Linked DNA regions of Homo sapiens: region 1 is linked to region 2. The links come from fine-mapping of genetic effects on gene expression. Tissue or cell type: blood mononuclear cells. Region 2 holds a variant in brackets; the other region holds the start of a gene. All regions are shown on one strand. Distances are between the middles of the regions.

The links. PIP is the estimated chance that this variant, and not a neighbour inherited with it, causes the effect.
Region 1: UBXN6 starts here. The variant in region 2 is fine-mapped to the expression of UBXN6 in blood mononuclear cells (TOPMed, PIP above 0.99). The same link has a PIP of 0.9 or more in lung.

What each region holds. Positions count from the first base shown.
Region 1 is chr19:4,453,591-4,461,669 of GRCh38, forward strand. UBXN6 (UBX domain protein 6) reads right to left here and starts at 4,204. Exons shown (of 11, transcript NM_025241.3): 1 at 4,025-4,204; 2 at 340-503. The coding sequence starts at 4,107. RefSeq lists enhancers at 1-439, 4,266-4,465 and silencers at 4,006-4,075, 4,106-4,155.
Region 2 is chr19:4,383,853-4,391,945 of GRCh38, forward strand. The region is part of intron 1 of SH3GL1 (SH3 domain containing GRB2 like 1, endophilin A2); the gene reads right to left. Among named protein-coding and RNA genes, the nearest start is that of SH3GL1, 13 kb to the right of the region's middle. RefSeq lists enhancers at 2,633-3,133, 5,552-6,159, 6,160-6,766, 6,767-7,375. The variant G/A (reference allele first, on the strand shown) is at 4,795.

The sequences.
Region 1 (8,079 bases), 70 kb after region 2:
CCCTCATTCCCGGGGTGGGCCTGGGGGCCACGCACACCGCCCCAGCCTGCTTCTGCTGGAGGTCAGGCTGGAGGTCCCCTGCAGGACTTGCTGTGCAGCCACCCCTCAGCCTGAGCAAGCACCCCACTGCCTGGGCAGCCCGTTTCTGCTCCAAGTCTCTGCTCCCACCCCCTCCCCAGGAAGCTGCCCTTCCCCCAGCACCTGCCCTTGATGAGCCGCTCCCAAGGGTGACCCTCACACCCCCACGGTTGCTCATGTGACTTCTGCATCCAGGGCCAGGCACCAGGGCCGAGAACCTCAAACAGCCCCAACCTGGGCCCGAGGAGGGCCATATCTCACCCTGGTTTCGGATGGTGTCCTGCGATGTGGGGCCCCAGGCCCGGGACTGCTTCTGCTCCAGCCGGGCTAGGGCGGCAGCGGCTGCCATCTGTGCCTCATTGGTGGGTCCCTGGCGGGGCGGCCTGGGGGCTGGCTGGTTGGGCTTCTCTTTGTGGGCCTTTTCCCTGGGAACAGACCGAGGGAGAGTGAGTGTATCCTCCCGAGGTGGCCGGCAAAGCTGACGTGCAGTCACACAGAGGAGCTTCTGCCCCTCCCCAGCACCATCAGCCAGACGTGTCCCTGCCTATGTGGGCCAGGACACCTGGTTCCCAGGGGCCACCTGCAGCCACCAGATGGTTCTACTGCAGGCGGAAGAGCCCCTGGAGGAAGGAGATGCTGGTTCCACTCAGCTCTGCACCATCGGGCAAGTCCTGCCCCCACTGGCCCTCAGCGTCCTCATCTGTAAAATGGGGTGACAGCACCCCTCCTGAGGTGAAGGCACCTTGACATCCTCAGTGCTTTTTTTCTTTTTGAGACAGGGTCTTGCTCTCTCACCAAGGCTGGAGTATAGTGGCACGATCATGGCTTACTGCAATCCTGAGCTCCCAGGCTCAAGGAATCCTCCCGCCTCAGCCTCCCAAGTCGCTGGGACTTAGAGGCAAGCATCATCATGCCTGGCTAATTTTTCTATCGAGACAGGGTCTCGCTATGTAGCTCAGGCTGGTCTCGAACTTTTGCCTCAAATGATCCTCCCACCGTGGCCTCCCAAACTGCTGGGATTATAGGCATGAGCCACAGCACCCAGCCCGCATCCTCAGGAATTGAGGAGACTCAAGGGGTGTCACATCCTCCCTCCCTCCCTGCCATAAGACTCTCCACCCTCAGGTCACAGCTTCGTTTGCTGAGCACCTACTGTGTGCCAGGACCCTGCTGGGAGCTGGTCGGCTCGCTTGGTTTACTCCTCCTAACAAGCTGCCAGGGAGGCCTCACCATCCCATTCCTAAACCCAAGAGGGACAGGAAGTCCGGGCGATGTGCCCCATGCCACGCCACCCTCGTGGCGGGACCCTGGGGAGAGCGGACAGCAGAACCAGCCTCGCCCTGGCCACTCCATGCCAGGCCTAGGGCTGTGCAAGTACGAAGAGCTCATGGACTCGTGGCTCCACCCTGTTGAGCCCTACACCAAGGAGAGTTCCGTAACCCACGTGGCACAGTGACCTGGCAGAGAAGCCTCGCAGAGAAGCCCTTTCTCCCAACCTGCTCGGACGCGTCTGTCTCACCCGTCTCCTCTCAGGCCCCTCCCATGAACTTACGGGCTGTGTCAATTTCTGTGCCGTAGGTCTATTAAAACCTTCTGGGAGGCCAGGCTCTCAGTTCAAGCCCTATACTCCTCTGGCTCTGCTTACATACCCGGGCAGCCCTCCCTCCTCGTCCCACCCCTGCCTATCTAGTCCTCCCACAGCTGAGCATCTTGGGTGGAAGAGGAGATGACTCATGAAGACCCACCCCGGCCTCATCCGATATCTGGGTCTTTCCAACAAAATGCCATTTCCCAGGGCACCTCACCCCAACCAGCCATGGACCCTGCCCCCCTGGGCAGCCACAGGGACCCTTCTGGAACCTCAGCCAGGGAGCGTCAGCATCACTCCACTGCACAACGCCCTCCCACTGCAAAATCCTAAAGCTTCCCTTGGCCAGAGAGCCCTTCCCAGCCTGGCCCACTGCCCTCCCGTGGCCTGTCTCCCCTGGGCTCCCCGCAGTTCTTCCCACACCCCAGCTGCTCCCCACTGCAGGCCCCTGCACTGTCTGCACCTTCTGCCCAGAATGTTCTCCGGGGGAGTGGGAGGAGGATGGGGGTCTGGAAAGGGCTAGAGCTGCCGCAGGGAGAGAAGGAGGGGCAGATTTCCCCACAGCTGAGTCTCACTGTGTCCTGGGAGAGGCCTTCCCAAACCACCTGACGGCCCCTGCTCACCCTCCTTGGAGGCCCTGGGCACTCATCCAAGCACTCATCGCCTGAGCGCTCATCCAAGGTCTGTTGGTTTATTTGTCCATCGGCTCCCTCTAGAAGGTGAGCCCTGGGACAGCAGAGGCCTTCTCCTGTCCACCACTGCAGCCTAAAACAGGACTTGGTGCCCACCCACCCCACACACCCTGGATATGCAGTCTCGCTCCACAAGGGACCTCCGCACCGCTTCCTTTCCCAACCTTCCCCTCCAACCTTCCCCTCTCCGCCCAGGCTCTGGGCTGATCCAGCCATCACCCCGATACCCTGCATCCTTCCTATCATGCCCAGTCCCAGTGGCCCCAGCACCCCCCACCCACTATTGGTTGAATCAATGAAGGGCTCCCCCGATTTGCCCCCTTCTCTCCCTGACCCCTCTCCCTCCCTCACTCAGCCTTTGCTCTCCTGCTCTCCCCCAGGAACCCTGACGTCCTCACTATGCCCCTACCTCCATCACCACCCCACTGCCCCGTGATTCCTGACCCCCACTTCCTGCCACCTCCCTGCCTCTCCCAGCCCCCACTCCCTCACAATCCCTTCCACTATTGCTTACAGACCCGTGTCCTGGCTGCCTGGCTGACTTCCTCAGTCCCTCTCCATCAGTCCCCACCACCCTCTGGCCAGCCAGCTCCCTGCAGCGGCCCCAGCTCTCCAGTTTCCCTTTTCTCAACCCAACAGCCCTCAGCCTTGCACCTTCCCTAGCTCCACTTCTTCCCCGGCCCTCCCAGCTGGCTCAGCCCTGCTCAGGCCCTTCTCTCCAAGTCCTCCCTAGACAATCCGGAAGCCTGCCCGGCATCTATCTCCTTTCCCCTCCTCTCCCACTTCCATAATCCACTTGGCACAGTGACGTGGCAGAGAAGCCTCGCAGAGAAGCTCTTTCTCCCAGCCTGCTAAGACGCGTCTGTCTCACCCGTCTTCTCCTCTCAGGCCCCTCCCGGGTAAGAGTCCATCTGTCAGAATCCCTCACCTCCACTCTCCTCACACACCTTCCTCAGCCCCTCCCTCTCAATTCGCCAGGACATCCCAGGTCACTGACGACGCTGCCCACCCCGGCCTCCCTGGCCTTCCAGACTCTTTCTAGTCTCCCATCAGCCTCCCACGTGCTCCAGATACCAAATCCAGAACCCCTCTTCCCATGGATACCTCAAAACAACTCTTCACCACCCCACCCCACAGCTGTGCGTCCTCCTCCAAGCTCAGCTCCCATCCATGGTCACCTAGATTGCCCCAAATCATCCCGGCCTCTTCGGCCAGCCGGGTCCCCAGACAGAGCTCTCCCTCACCACCCGGCTCAGGACTCATGATCCCGTTTTTCCCCAAAGGTCGTTCCACTGACCCCCAACTGCCTACAGCCCCGTCGCCCTAATCCCCCGCCACTGCATCGGACCCTCCTGCGGCCCCGCCCCCGAGACCTCCCCTCCCGCCCCGCCCCCTGCGCTAGTTCCCCTCCCCTCGCCTCCCCCGCCGCGCCCCCGGGTCATACCCGCCCCCTCCTGCCCCGCCCCCAGATCTCTCTCCCCTCCCCCTGACGCCCACCCTCGGCCCGACTTCGTCCGCCCCCGGCGCCTCTCCCCCTCCCCTGACCCTCGCGTGCCGCTCCCAGCCCCTCATCCTCTCCGATCTCCCGAGCCGCCCAAGGCCCCAGATCTCTCTCCCCGGCCGTCCCCGCCCCGCAGGGCCTCAAGCCCCTGCGTTCCTCACGCACCCCACGGACTCTTTGAGCTTCTGACCGGGTCCCGCGCTCTTGAACTTGATGTCGGCCTTGAACTCCTGAAAGAATTTCTTCATGGTGGCGGCTGGCCCGGCGGCGGGGGGCCGCGGGGGCGGGGGGGCACGGGGCCCAGTCGGGGACGGGGCCGCCGGAGACCAGCCACCGGAAGAAAATTAAAAAAAAAAAAAAAAAAAAAAAAAAAATTTACCTCGCCGCCGGAAGTCCCGCCTTCCCCTGGCCTGCCACGTGACAATCGACTAGACGTGCCTCTCTAGCGCTCGGTGCCTTGCTGGCCCAGGGCGGCCGCTCTGTACGCTGGAGCCGCGTCTCTGTGGTTCTTCCGGACTCCGTTGCCAGGGCGACGAGTGCACCTCTCGATTGGAGACAGGGCATTCCGTGGCGCTCCCCAAACGGTGACAAACGGTGATAGGACAGGGACAGGCCAACTGAACCTCGCAGAGAAAGCACTGGGCCCTATCCCTTTCGCTGCTCAACCTAAACTAGGCGCGGTGGCTCACGCCTGCAATCACAGCACTTTGGAGGCTCAAGCGGAAGGATTGCTTGATCCCAGAAGTTGGAGACCAGCCTGGCAACATGGCAAAACCTCGTCTCTATAAAAAAAAAAAAAATAAAATAAAATAAATTAGCCGAGGGTGGTGGCGCGCGCCTCTCAGCTACTTGGGAGGCAGAGGCGGGAGGATCGCTTGAACCCAAGAGGTCGAGGCTGCAGTGAGCTGTGATCAAGCCACTGCATTCCAGCCTGGGCGACAGAGAGAGACCCTGTCTCAAGCAAAACAAAAAAAATTCCAACCTTCTCTGTCTCCCCAGAGCTTACGTGATAAAATCCCAATTCAATGTTGGGTATTGGAGGCCCCCACGATCTGGCCTGTTTTGGTGCCTGAAGCACCCCCCCGCCACCATCACCACGTACCCTAGGTAGGAGCTGTTTAAGAGGATGCACCTGGGCCGGGCGCGGTGGCTCATGCCTGTAATCCCAGCACTTTGGGAGGCCGAAGCGGGCGGATCACAAGGTCAGGAGATCGAGACCATCCTGGCTAACACGGTGATACCCCGTCTCTACTAAAAATACAAAAAATTAGCCGGGCATGGTGGCAGGCGTCTGTACTCACAGCTACTCGGGAGGCTGAGGCAGGAGAATGGCGTGAACCCGCGAGGCGGAGCTTGCAGTGAGCCGAGATCTCACCACTGCACTCCAGCCTGGGCGACAGAGCGAGACTCCGTCTCAAAAAAAAAAAAAAAAAAAAAAAAAGAGGATGCACCCAATGCACCCAATTGGGACCTGGGGATTGGGGATCCACTTTGGTGGACACCAGTTAATAGTGGCGTACTTTGGTCTGTGCAATCCACAAAGAAGATACACAAAGTGACAGTTAAAACAAGCCTCAAAAAATGGGAGTTGGGGGTCAGACGTGGTGGCTCATGCCTCTAATCCCAGCACTTTGGGAGGCCGAGGCCGGCGGATCACTTGAGGTCAGGAGTTTGAGACCAGCCTGGCCAACATGGTGAAAGCCTGTCTCTATGGGCACCGGTAATCCCAGCTACTCGGGAGGCTGAGGCAGGAGAATCGCTTGAACCCGGCAGGTGGAGGTTGCAGTGAGCCGAGATCTCGCCATTGCACTTCAGCCTGGGCAACAGAGGGAGACTCTGCCTCAAAAAAGAAGGAGTTGGAATGAGATACACAGAGACTGATGGAGGAGAAGCCTCCAGGTGAGGAAACAGCCCACCCCAAGACTGAAATTGAAATATCATGGGTTGGACGGGTGGCTCAGGCCTGCAGTCCCAACATTTTGGGAGGCCAAGGTGGGAGGATTGCTTTAGCCCAGGAATTGGAGGCTGCAGTAAGCTAGGATCACGCCACTGCACTCCAGCCTGGGCAACAGAGCCAGACCCTGTCTTATTAAAAAAAGAAAAAAAGGCCAGGCACGGTGGCTCATGCCTGTAATCCCAGCCCTTTGGAAGGCCGAGGCGGGTGGATCACGAGGTCAGGAGATTGAGACCATCCCGGCTAATACGGTGAAACCCTGTCTTTACTGAAAATAATTTTTAAAAAAATTAGCCAGCCTTGGTGGCGGGCGCCTGTAGTCCCAGCTACTTGGGAGGCTGAGGCAGGAGAATGGCGTGAACCCAGGAGGCAGAGCTTACAGTGAGCCGAGATCATGCCACTGTGCTCCAGCCTGGGCAACAGAGCAAGACTCCGTTTCAAAAAAAAAAAAAAAAGGAAAAGAATTGGGCCAGGTGCGGTGGCTCACACCTGTAATCCCAGCACTTTGGGAGGTCAAGGCGGGTGGATCACTTAAGGTCAGAAGTTCAAGACCGACCTGGCCAACATAGCAAAACCCCGTCTCTATTAAAAATACAAAAATCAGCCGGGTGTGGTGGTGTGTGCCAGTAATCCCAGCTACTTGAGAAGCTGAGGCAGCAGAATCACTTGAACGCAGGAGACAGAGGTTGCAGTGAGCTGAGATTGCACCACTGCACTCCAGCCTGGGCGACAGAGCGAGACTCTGTCTCAAAAATAAATAAATAAAGTAAAAAAATAAATAAATAAAAGAAGAATACAGTGCAACCCAAACTTCAATCTTTCTGATCTCCAGTCTCCTATCTATGAAATGGGGATAAGAATAACACTCTCTATAGATTGTAGGGGTGATCATGTGATTAGAAAGTTCTCAGTATGCCGGGCACGGTGGCTCATGCCTGTAATCCCAGCTACTCAGGAGGCTAAGGCAGGAGAATCACCTGAACTTGGGAAGCAGAGGTTGCAGTGAGCCGAGACTGCGCCACTGCAATCCAGCTTGGCAACAGAGCAAGACTCCGTCTCAAAAAGAAAAGAAAAGAAAATTACAGCTCATTGTTGTGAATAAGGAATTGTATACCCTATAACTCAAATAAAGGTACAACACTGGGCCAAAGTCACACAGCTGGAAAGTGGCAGAGACCCATCCCACTTCTCCAAGAATAAAATCCTATGGGGTTCCTCAGCCTGGTCTAAGGAGATCCTAACATTAATAGGCCCTAATAAATTTCTATTTCAGGTTCTAAGTATTCTGAGGGTTTCAGAAACCCCGTTTCTTGTTATCACCCACCTTTCCACCTCTGCCTCAGTTACCTGGAAGTATTTCCAGCTCACCTCTGGGCCTTTGCCTAGGCATTCTCCTTTACCAGAAGGGACTTCTCTTCCTCTGCCTAACTCAATCCTCTTCCACCATGACGCTCTCCTGGACTATCTTCCTCATGTCGGATGAGGTTATGAGATTAAATAATTTAACATTTCTGCCAGGAGCGGTCGGTGGCTCACACCAGTAATTCCAGCACTTTGGGAGGACAACATTTATTTTTCTTTTCTTTTCTTTTCTTTTTTTTTTTTTTGAGATGGAGTCTCGCTCTGTTGCCCAGGCTGCAGTGCAGTGGCACAATCTTGGCTCACTGCAAGCTCCACCTCCCAGGTTCACACCATTCTCCTGCCTCAGCCTCCCGACTAGCTGGGACTACAGGCGCCCGCCACCACACCCGGCTAATTTTTTGTATTTTTAGTAGAGACGGGGTTTCACCGTGTTAGCCAAGATGGTCTCGATCTCCTGACCCCGTGATCCGCCCGCCTCGGCCTCCCAAAGTGCTGGGATTACAGGCATGAGCCACCATGCCCAGCTTTCTTTTTTTTTTTAGACAGGGTCTTACTCTCTTCCCCACGCTGGAGTGCAGTGGCACAATCATGGCTCACTGCAGCCTAGAACTTCTGAGCTCAAGCAGTCCTCCCCACTCAGCTTCCCAAGAAGCTGGGACTGCAGGCATGTGCCACCACACTCAGCTAATTTTTTTTTTTTTTTTTTTTTTGAGAAGGAATTTCGCTCTTGTTGCCCAGGCTGTAGTGCAATGGTGCGATCTCGGCTCACCACAACCTCCATCTCTCGGATTCTCCTGCCTCAGCCTCCCGAGTAGTTGAGATTACAGGCACCCGCCACCATGCCTGGCTACTTTTTTGTATTTTTAGTAGACACAGGGTTTCTCCATGTTGGTCAGGCTGGTCT
Region 2 (8,093 bases):
GAAGGCAGAGTGATCCACGCCAGAACACAGCGTTGAGAGCTAGGAGAAGGCAGTGTGGCTTTGTTTGACCTCGGCTAGGAACATATGCGATGGGTGACAGATTTTTTGCTGCTCTGCACTTGTCTGCAAAAGACTGCAAAAGGAATGATTTGGGGCTACAAATCAATCTTATCAAGTAGGTGAATTTGCACAGGGAGCACGTGAGTCCTGGCCCAAGCTGCCCTCTGCGACAAGGCTGGGTGCTAGGTGCTTTCTGTGAGCGCGGCCTCACTGTACACAACAAAACTGAAAACGCAGGCTCCAGAGGAATTTACAGGCTGGAGGGGATGTTACATCCGTGAGGAGGATGCCCAGCAGAAGCAGAGTCCTCAGAGCTGATGGCGCAGGAGCCCCCCAGTTCATCCCGCTCCGGACCACACAGAGCTAACCCTGAGCTGGGAGCCTCCTCCCCGCCCACTTGGCTTCCTGGCCAAGGCCCCCAGGCACATACAGCACGGTGGAGGAGGGTTGAAATAACACACTTTACGAGTGCGCAACACACGATATTGCTAGCCACCGGTCCAGGACTTTCGGTCATGCAAATTGAACAGGTTGTTTTTTTCCAGGCTAGGACTGCTGAAAACCTATGTGGCTATTTTTCTTTTTTTGAAGGCAGGGTCTCGCTATATTGCCTAGGCTGGAGTGCAGTGGCTATTCATGGGCATAGTCATCAAGCACTACAGCAGATGATCATATTAAGCAAGGTACCGCACTGGAGAAGCTCTCAGATACATGCCACAGGGGACCGCTCACTGCCAGGCTGTGTGAAAATGCAGAAACTTGGAGACTCTAAATGTCCACTGGCTGGAGAACGGATAGACACACTGTGGAATAACCACGAGGGAAAGCCACGCAGCTGCGGATGCGAGTGGAGCCTCGTGTGTCAGTGTGAACGGTACTCACAAGCAGTGCTCAGCCTAAAAGTAGGGTGAGCAGGTGCGGTGGCTTACGCCTGTAATCCCAGCACTCTGGGAGGCCAAAGCAGGCAGATTGCTGGAGCTCAGGAGTTCGAGACTAGCCTGGCCAACATGGTGAAACCTTGTCCCTACTAAAAATATGAAAATTATCCGGGTGTGGTGGTTGGTGTCTGTAATCCCAGCTACTCGGGAGGCTGAGGCAGGAGAATTGCTTGAGCCTGGGAGCGGGAGGTTGCAGTGAGCTGAGATTGCGCCATTGCACTCCAGCCTGGGTGACGAGAGACTCCATCTCAAAAAAAAAAAAAAAAACTAGGGTACGAGAAACCAAGCAAGAAAGCACGTGATCCTGTTGACAGGCAGTGTGGACCGCCACACAACCCTGCGTGTTTTGGCGCAGTGAACGTGCGCAGTGAAGGCACGCCGGCCCTGCTCTGGCTTCCTTGGGATGGGGTGGGGGCACCTGCTCATCTGCTGGTCATTCTTAGCTGCCTTTCTGGATCTGAAACCCTTTATGATACAACCTTCATGAGGTGCCTGAACAAGGGAGGTGCCCTGTGCCACATACTGGTGCCGACCAGCGTGTGGCCCAGGGAATGTGTTCTGAATGCAGTAAGAGGCAACCTCTCCTGGAAGGAGGGCGACCCCCTACCGGCTCCTCTGACAGCCGAGTGGACTCCTGGGCTCCAGAAACGTGATTGCAGCAGGCAGACCAAAGGTCTTTCTCCTGCCCTCCCTCCCAGCAGCACTCTTTCCTTCCGGGCCCCAAAGACCCTCCCTGGCTGTGCAGCTGCCCACTATGGAACCCTCAGCCAGTCTAGAGGTGGCACAGGGACCCCACTCAACAGAGGGGCCCACTGGTGCCTTCTTCTGACAGGCACAGAGTGCTCTGGGGCTAGCCGGGGAGGCTGCTGTGGGAAGGCTGGGAGTGGGAGAACACTGGAAAAATACACAGGATTCTGCAAGTATGAAATAAAAATGTAAAAGCTAGGGCACAGCGCAGCATTCCAGCGGCCTCCGAGCCAGCCTCTGCAGTGGGCAGCACATACCTCCCAGACACCCACACTACGCTCAGCCAGGGGTCCGACAGCTCCAAGGCTCCTCGTGGGTGGAACGCTGACTTGACCAGAGTCAGCAAGAAGCAAGATACTCTGCAGTTCTGGGGGTTGTCCTTCCTTCCTAAAATAATAGCAGGGATTCTCAACCTTAGAGAAAACCATCAGAGGCCTCAGGAGAGGATGAAGATGATCTTATGCCAGGGTGGGTGAAGGTTGGGAGATGGGGAAATTCCAACCAGGTCCCTGGGCTGCCCTCTTCTGAGCCACAAAGGCTGGCCTTGAAGGGCCAGGGCTGCCCATCTGTTTCAAACAATCGGGACTCTGATGAGTGAGGCTGTTAGGCTGATGGATGCCTGCCTGAGTCAGCTGTGGGGCCTCATCCCACAGAGGCGGGTGGCAAGGGATTGCGGCGAGGGCGGGCAGAAAGTTCCCAGAGCTTCCTTCCGCAGGGGGCTTCCTGAGAATAAGGGTCTCTGCTTAGTGCTGGGGCAAAGTCCCGAAATGACAGCAGAAAAATAATCAGTCAGCAGTTCTGCTTCCAGCACGCAGGGCTGGATGGGGGTGTCCTGGAGGAAGATATTTGCATTACTGCTTGGGTGATGTTTGGGAACTCTTTTTTTTTTTTATTTCTTTTTCACTTTTTTTTTTTTTTTTTTGGAGAACAGGGTCTTGCTATACTGCCCAGGCAGATCTCAAACTCCCGGGCTCAAGCGCTCCTCCTGCCTCTGCCTCCCTCAGAGCTGGGATTACAGGCACGAGCCACCGTGCCCAACAATGTTTGGGAACTCCTTAAGAATGCTGACTGCTGGGTCTCCAGCTTCCATGCCTTTCCCCAGGCACTCAGGACCTGGCTGTTACCAACCCATCAGCCCTCTTTCCTGAGCCCAAATCCCAGTGTGCAGGATCCCCCGATCCTAAGAGGCGAGACTGCAGAGGGCATGGCGGTGGGCCCCAAGGGAAAAGGCAACGTGCCTTCCGTGAGGCATTTCCCACAGCGTGGCAGCTAACACAAGCATAAGGCACGTGAATCACGTGGTCAGAACACAACTCCGCTGCAATTCCCCTTCTGTATTTCTTTTTCTTTTTCTTTTGAGATGGAGTCTTGCTCTGTCGCCCAGGCTGGAGTGCAGTGGTGCAATCTTGGCTCACTGCAAGCTCTGCCTCCCGGGTTCACGCCATACTCCTGGCTCAGCCTCCCGAGTAGCTGGGACTACAGGTGCCCGCCACCACATCCAGTTAATTCTTTGTATTTTTAGCAGAGACACGGTTTCACCGTGTTAGCCAGGATGGTCTCGATCTCCTGACCTCGTGATCTGCCCGCCTCGCCCTCCCAAAGTGCTGGGATTACAGGCATGAGCCACCGCGCCTGGCCCCTCTTCTGTATTTCTTATTCTGGCAAGAAGGAACTTCCAGGTGGGCACTACTATAGTACAGGCTTTGTTTTTGTTTTTTTTAGGCAGGGTCTTGCTCTGTTGCCCAGGCTGGAGGGCAGCGGCATGATGATAGCTCACCGCAGCCTCAAACTCCTGGACTTAAGTGATCCTCCCACCTCAGCCTACCAAGTAGCTGGGCTACAGGTGTGCACCGCTATGACTGGCTAATTTAATTTTTTGTACAGACGGGGTTTCATTGTGTTGCCCAAATGGGCTTGAACAACTGGGCTAAAGCAATCCTGCCTCAGCCTCCCTAAGTGCTGGGATTACAGGCAAGAATCACCACGTCCAGCCCGAACAGCTCTTTCACAAGAGAGCACACCTCAGGCTCAGGGGTGGGGTATCCAGCAAAATTTCACTCTATTGTTTTGCTGCTGTTGTATTTGTTATTCCACTTACTGTGCGGGGTTTTTTGTGTTGTTTTGTTTTTGAGGCAGAGTGCAGTGGTGCTATCTTGGCTCAAGGCAACCTTCACCTCGCAGGTTCCAGCGATTCGCCTGCCTCAGCCTCCCGAGTAGCGGGGATTACAGATATGCATTACTACGCCCGACGAATTTTGTTTGTTTTTGTTTTTGTTTTTTTGAGACAGAGTCTCGCTCTGTCGCCAGGCTGGAGTGCACTGGCGCGATCTCAGCTCACTGCAACCTCTGCCTCCTGAGTTCAAGCGATTCTCCCGCCTCAGCCTCCTGAGTAGCTGGGATTACAGCCATGCGCCACCCACGCCCAGCTAATTTTTGTATTTTTAGTAGAGATGGGGTTTCACCATGTTGGCCAGTCTAGTCTCAAACTCCTGACCTTGTGATCCACCTGCCTCGGCCTCCCAAAGTGCTGGGATTACAGGTGTGAGCCATCGTGTCCGGCCTATTCCAGTTACTGTTATTGAGCAAGGAAAAATACCACGATCCCCTTTAAAATACATTTTAAAAGTGATAAAATAAAAGTAATTTAAGAGGAAAGAGGCCGAATCAGCTAATGGGTTCAAGCTGAAGGACAGGCGATGAACCCTGGCTGTCATTTCAGGGCATCACCGCTGGCCAGCTGCCTGCTGTGGTCTGCGAGTCGTGGGAGTGTCACATTTGAACGCTGGGACAGGGGACGCAGGCTTAGAAGACAGGTACAGAGAGGGGCAGCGGAAGCACAGGAGACAGCAGGCTCAGAGACAGAAGGGGCCATCCACAGGGAGAAGTGGGAGGAGCCGCAGGGCCTATTGTGGCAATCAGAGAGAAGTCACTGCAGCAACTGGGCACAGAGGCCAGGGAGAGAGCTGCAGGATGGGTGGCCAGGCCCAGCCATGGCAAAAGTCCTAAGAATCTTGGCAAACAGGGCTGGGGAGCCAGTTTCTGGAGGCTG[G/A]GAGTGGTTTAGTTTGGGGAAGCATTCAAGCCAGGGAACCACCAACTCTGAGCAGACCGGCCCAGCCGGGCAGCAGCAGGTGCATTTCAGCCTGGCCTCGATCAAGGGGGGAAGCAGGCGTCTGGGCTTGGCTTCTTAGGGACCCTGCTCAGGCAGGCTCTGGGTCAGAGACTGCCTGTGACACAGTCAGGCCCTCGGACCTGGCCAAGTTCAGGTGACTGTCAGCTGCAGCCCTGGAGCTGGACACACACCCTAAACCACAGGAGACACTCTCTGAGCTGTTGATTTTTTCAGAGCAGTCGGACCTGTTCCCAACCGAGTTCTCCGAGGCCTTGTCAGCCACCTGCCTCCCTGGTGCTGTGACACGGCCTGGTCAGATGCCTGGCCAGCGGACCAGGGGCTGCTGTTGAGCCACCACCAGGGACACCACAGGGGCCCTGTGGAGGACAGCCCCTCACTCTGAGAAGGAGCCCTCTAGCTCAGCCTCTGTAGGGGGCGTCTCTGGCAACCTCATCAGCAGGCCAGTGCCCAGCAGAACATGGCCCATCACACATGCCCGAGCACAGCCCAGCCTCAGGAGCTGCCGTCCGATGGGAGGAGAGCACCTCACACGAACACCAGCGTGTGGCATCTGGGTGGGGGACCCCGAGGCCAGAAGCTCCAAGGGCTGAGAACTCAGTTCCCACATGCATCCCCGGAAGATGCCAAGGATAAGGGGAGATAGAAACGCGTTCGTTATAGGGCAGACAGGAAGTGGAGAGAAAATGAGGTTGGGAGGTAGGAGAGGCCGGTGACATGGACAGGAGGCAGGAGAGTACAGGGCCCCACACAGGGTGGGCGGGAGGGACTGACTGTGTGAGTTCCCATGCAGGGGAAGAGTAGCATTTAAACCTGGGACCAAGGCAGGGGCTCCAGAAGCTCCCGAAATTCGGCTGAGAGCTTGAACTGTACCCTGGGCCAGGTGGAGACCTGCTTCTCTTCCTCTAGGGCGTGCTCACACAAACTCGACACGAGGCCATCCGCTGTAGGGTGGGGGCCACGGTGGCCCATCCGTCCTTCCATGTGATATTTACCGGCTCCCTGGGGCAGGCCAGCCAGTAAACCAAACACTGGGGATGCAGCAATGAGCACAAATGCCTGGCTCCGGCGGCAATGGGCTCATATTCCAGTGGCAACGGCAATGGAATAATCACTCCCATTGGCATGAAACCATGTGGGGAGCTGTCCACTTGGGGGCCAGGGCAGAGGAGACGCATGTTCCCGGCCCAGGGAGGGGAGTGGGCCCACTCACCCCATGCCCTCGCAGGCCTGATGCCATCTGGATTCTGAGTATCTGCCATGACCACCGCCCCTACAGACTGTGTCACACGCGGCATGACCCCTGCTGGGTGCTTCGTCCCCTTACCCAGGTGTGGAACTGCGGCCCGCTAGGCGGGAGCCCCCTCCCAGGCGGTCAGTGGGCCGCTGCTGAGTCAGGTCCAATGGAGGAAACTGTCCGTCTATCTTCCTGCTGTGGTGAGGAGGTCTCCCCGTGACCCTGCTCTCAGGGCCTGGTCAGCAGGTTTTTCTAGGAGTGGAGAGGAAAAGGAAGACAGGGCCGTCCTCCCAGAGCCTGAGTTCAGGGAGCCCTGGGTACTGCTTAACAGGAAATGAGCAGAAACGCACCAAGCTGCAGTGCTCAGGAAAAGTGCTTGCCAAATCCAGCCCTGCAAAAGGCGAGAGATAGAGAAAGAGAGAGACAGGCAGGCAGACAGACAGGAAGAAGGTGTGGAGAGGACAGACAGAGAGAGAGGAAGAAGAGGTGAGAGGGCAAAAGAAGGGAGAGACAGAGAGAAAGACAAGGGAAGAGTGAGAACAGAAAGAGAGGAAGAAGAGGGGGGAGAGATAGGGAGAGGAGGGGAGAGAAGGGAGAGAGGGAAACCCGCTGCAGCCCTGGCCACCACATTCTTTCATCCGCTTTCCAGGGACAGCTTCGAAAAAGAACCAGAAGAGACCGCCCCCTGACACTTCAGCTCACACATTAAAAAGCCATTAGAGTTGGAGAGCTCAGGTCCTGCTGAGATGCCTCCAGAGCCTGTTGAGCTCCTGACACCTACCCCACCCCCACCCCGGGGCAATGCTTCCCCTTCCAACCCTCCCGGCACTTAAAGACCTCAGGGGCTTGGAAAAGAGAAACATGGAGGCCGCTCTGAGCTTCTCCTCTAAGCTCTGCCCCGGGCAGCGCCGAAACCTGCGGCTGCCTCCGAAATCCTACTGGGGACGTTGGCAGCATGCTCCAAATTAAACACGACGTTTCCCCAGATCAGATCAGTTGCAAAACACTGGAAACAATCACGGAGGAGGAAAAGGGCTAAGGCAGCAGTGAAGGCTTGGCTGTACCCTAGGCCCCTGGATTAAAGTCCACTGGACACAGAGACACAGGCAGGTCTGAGCGGGACGGGCCTCAACCTGCAGGTTTCTCCTTTGAGGAAAAAATGCAACAGACACACACACAGACATCTGAGGGGCCCAGCTGCCAGCTCAGACCTCAGGTGCACTGCGCACGTGACAGCGGCCACCCCTGGGTGGCCAGGGGTGGGGTGAGCAGTGTCATGTTCTCTGTGTGCTTGATAGGTCTGGGGTGTCAAAATGTGACAGCCCCCAATTTCTTCAACTGAGCGGCATAAGGTGAGACACCTCATCTCGCACTCACAGGCTGTTATTAGGGGCACCTGGAATATAATTAAGTACTGCAGAGCTGGGCTTTAACACACACCCAGATAAGCAGGGCGATCAGCACCCACGGAGCCCCAACTGGTCTTTGGTGAACACGGGATTCTGAGTCAGAGACAAACTTTTAGCCGAACTTTCAGCCCTTGACTTGTTCTGGGACCTACTGTACAGCAGTCACGGGTGGCAGAAATCGGAGTCTGATGACCCCTTGGTCCTGGTTTGTTAAGAATGGGAAAACGTAGGATGCTGCTTGGTTACAAAGTGCCCAGTGACCACCAACAGCCAACCCTGTGAAGGGGGCCAGGTGAGCCAGGTTTCACAGACAGGCCCGGGGAGCCGTGGGGTGTAAGGAGCCTCTAGCTTCCTTTGGGGAAAGGCAGTCTCAAACTTCTGTGTCTGCACAGCCCAGCTGGCACACAGTTCAGGCCTCCACACAGCTGCTGGTTCCACCCGTCTGCAAGCCAGAAACAGAGTGAGCCCTGCCTGTCCTGGGGTGGCCCAGGGTCCACGCCGCCGGCTCCAATGCCGGCTCCAATGCCTCAAGGCACACACCAGTACATGCCGCACGTTCCTGGATTCAGTCACCA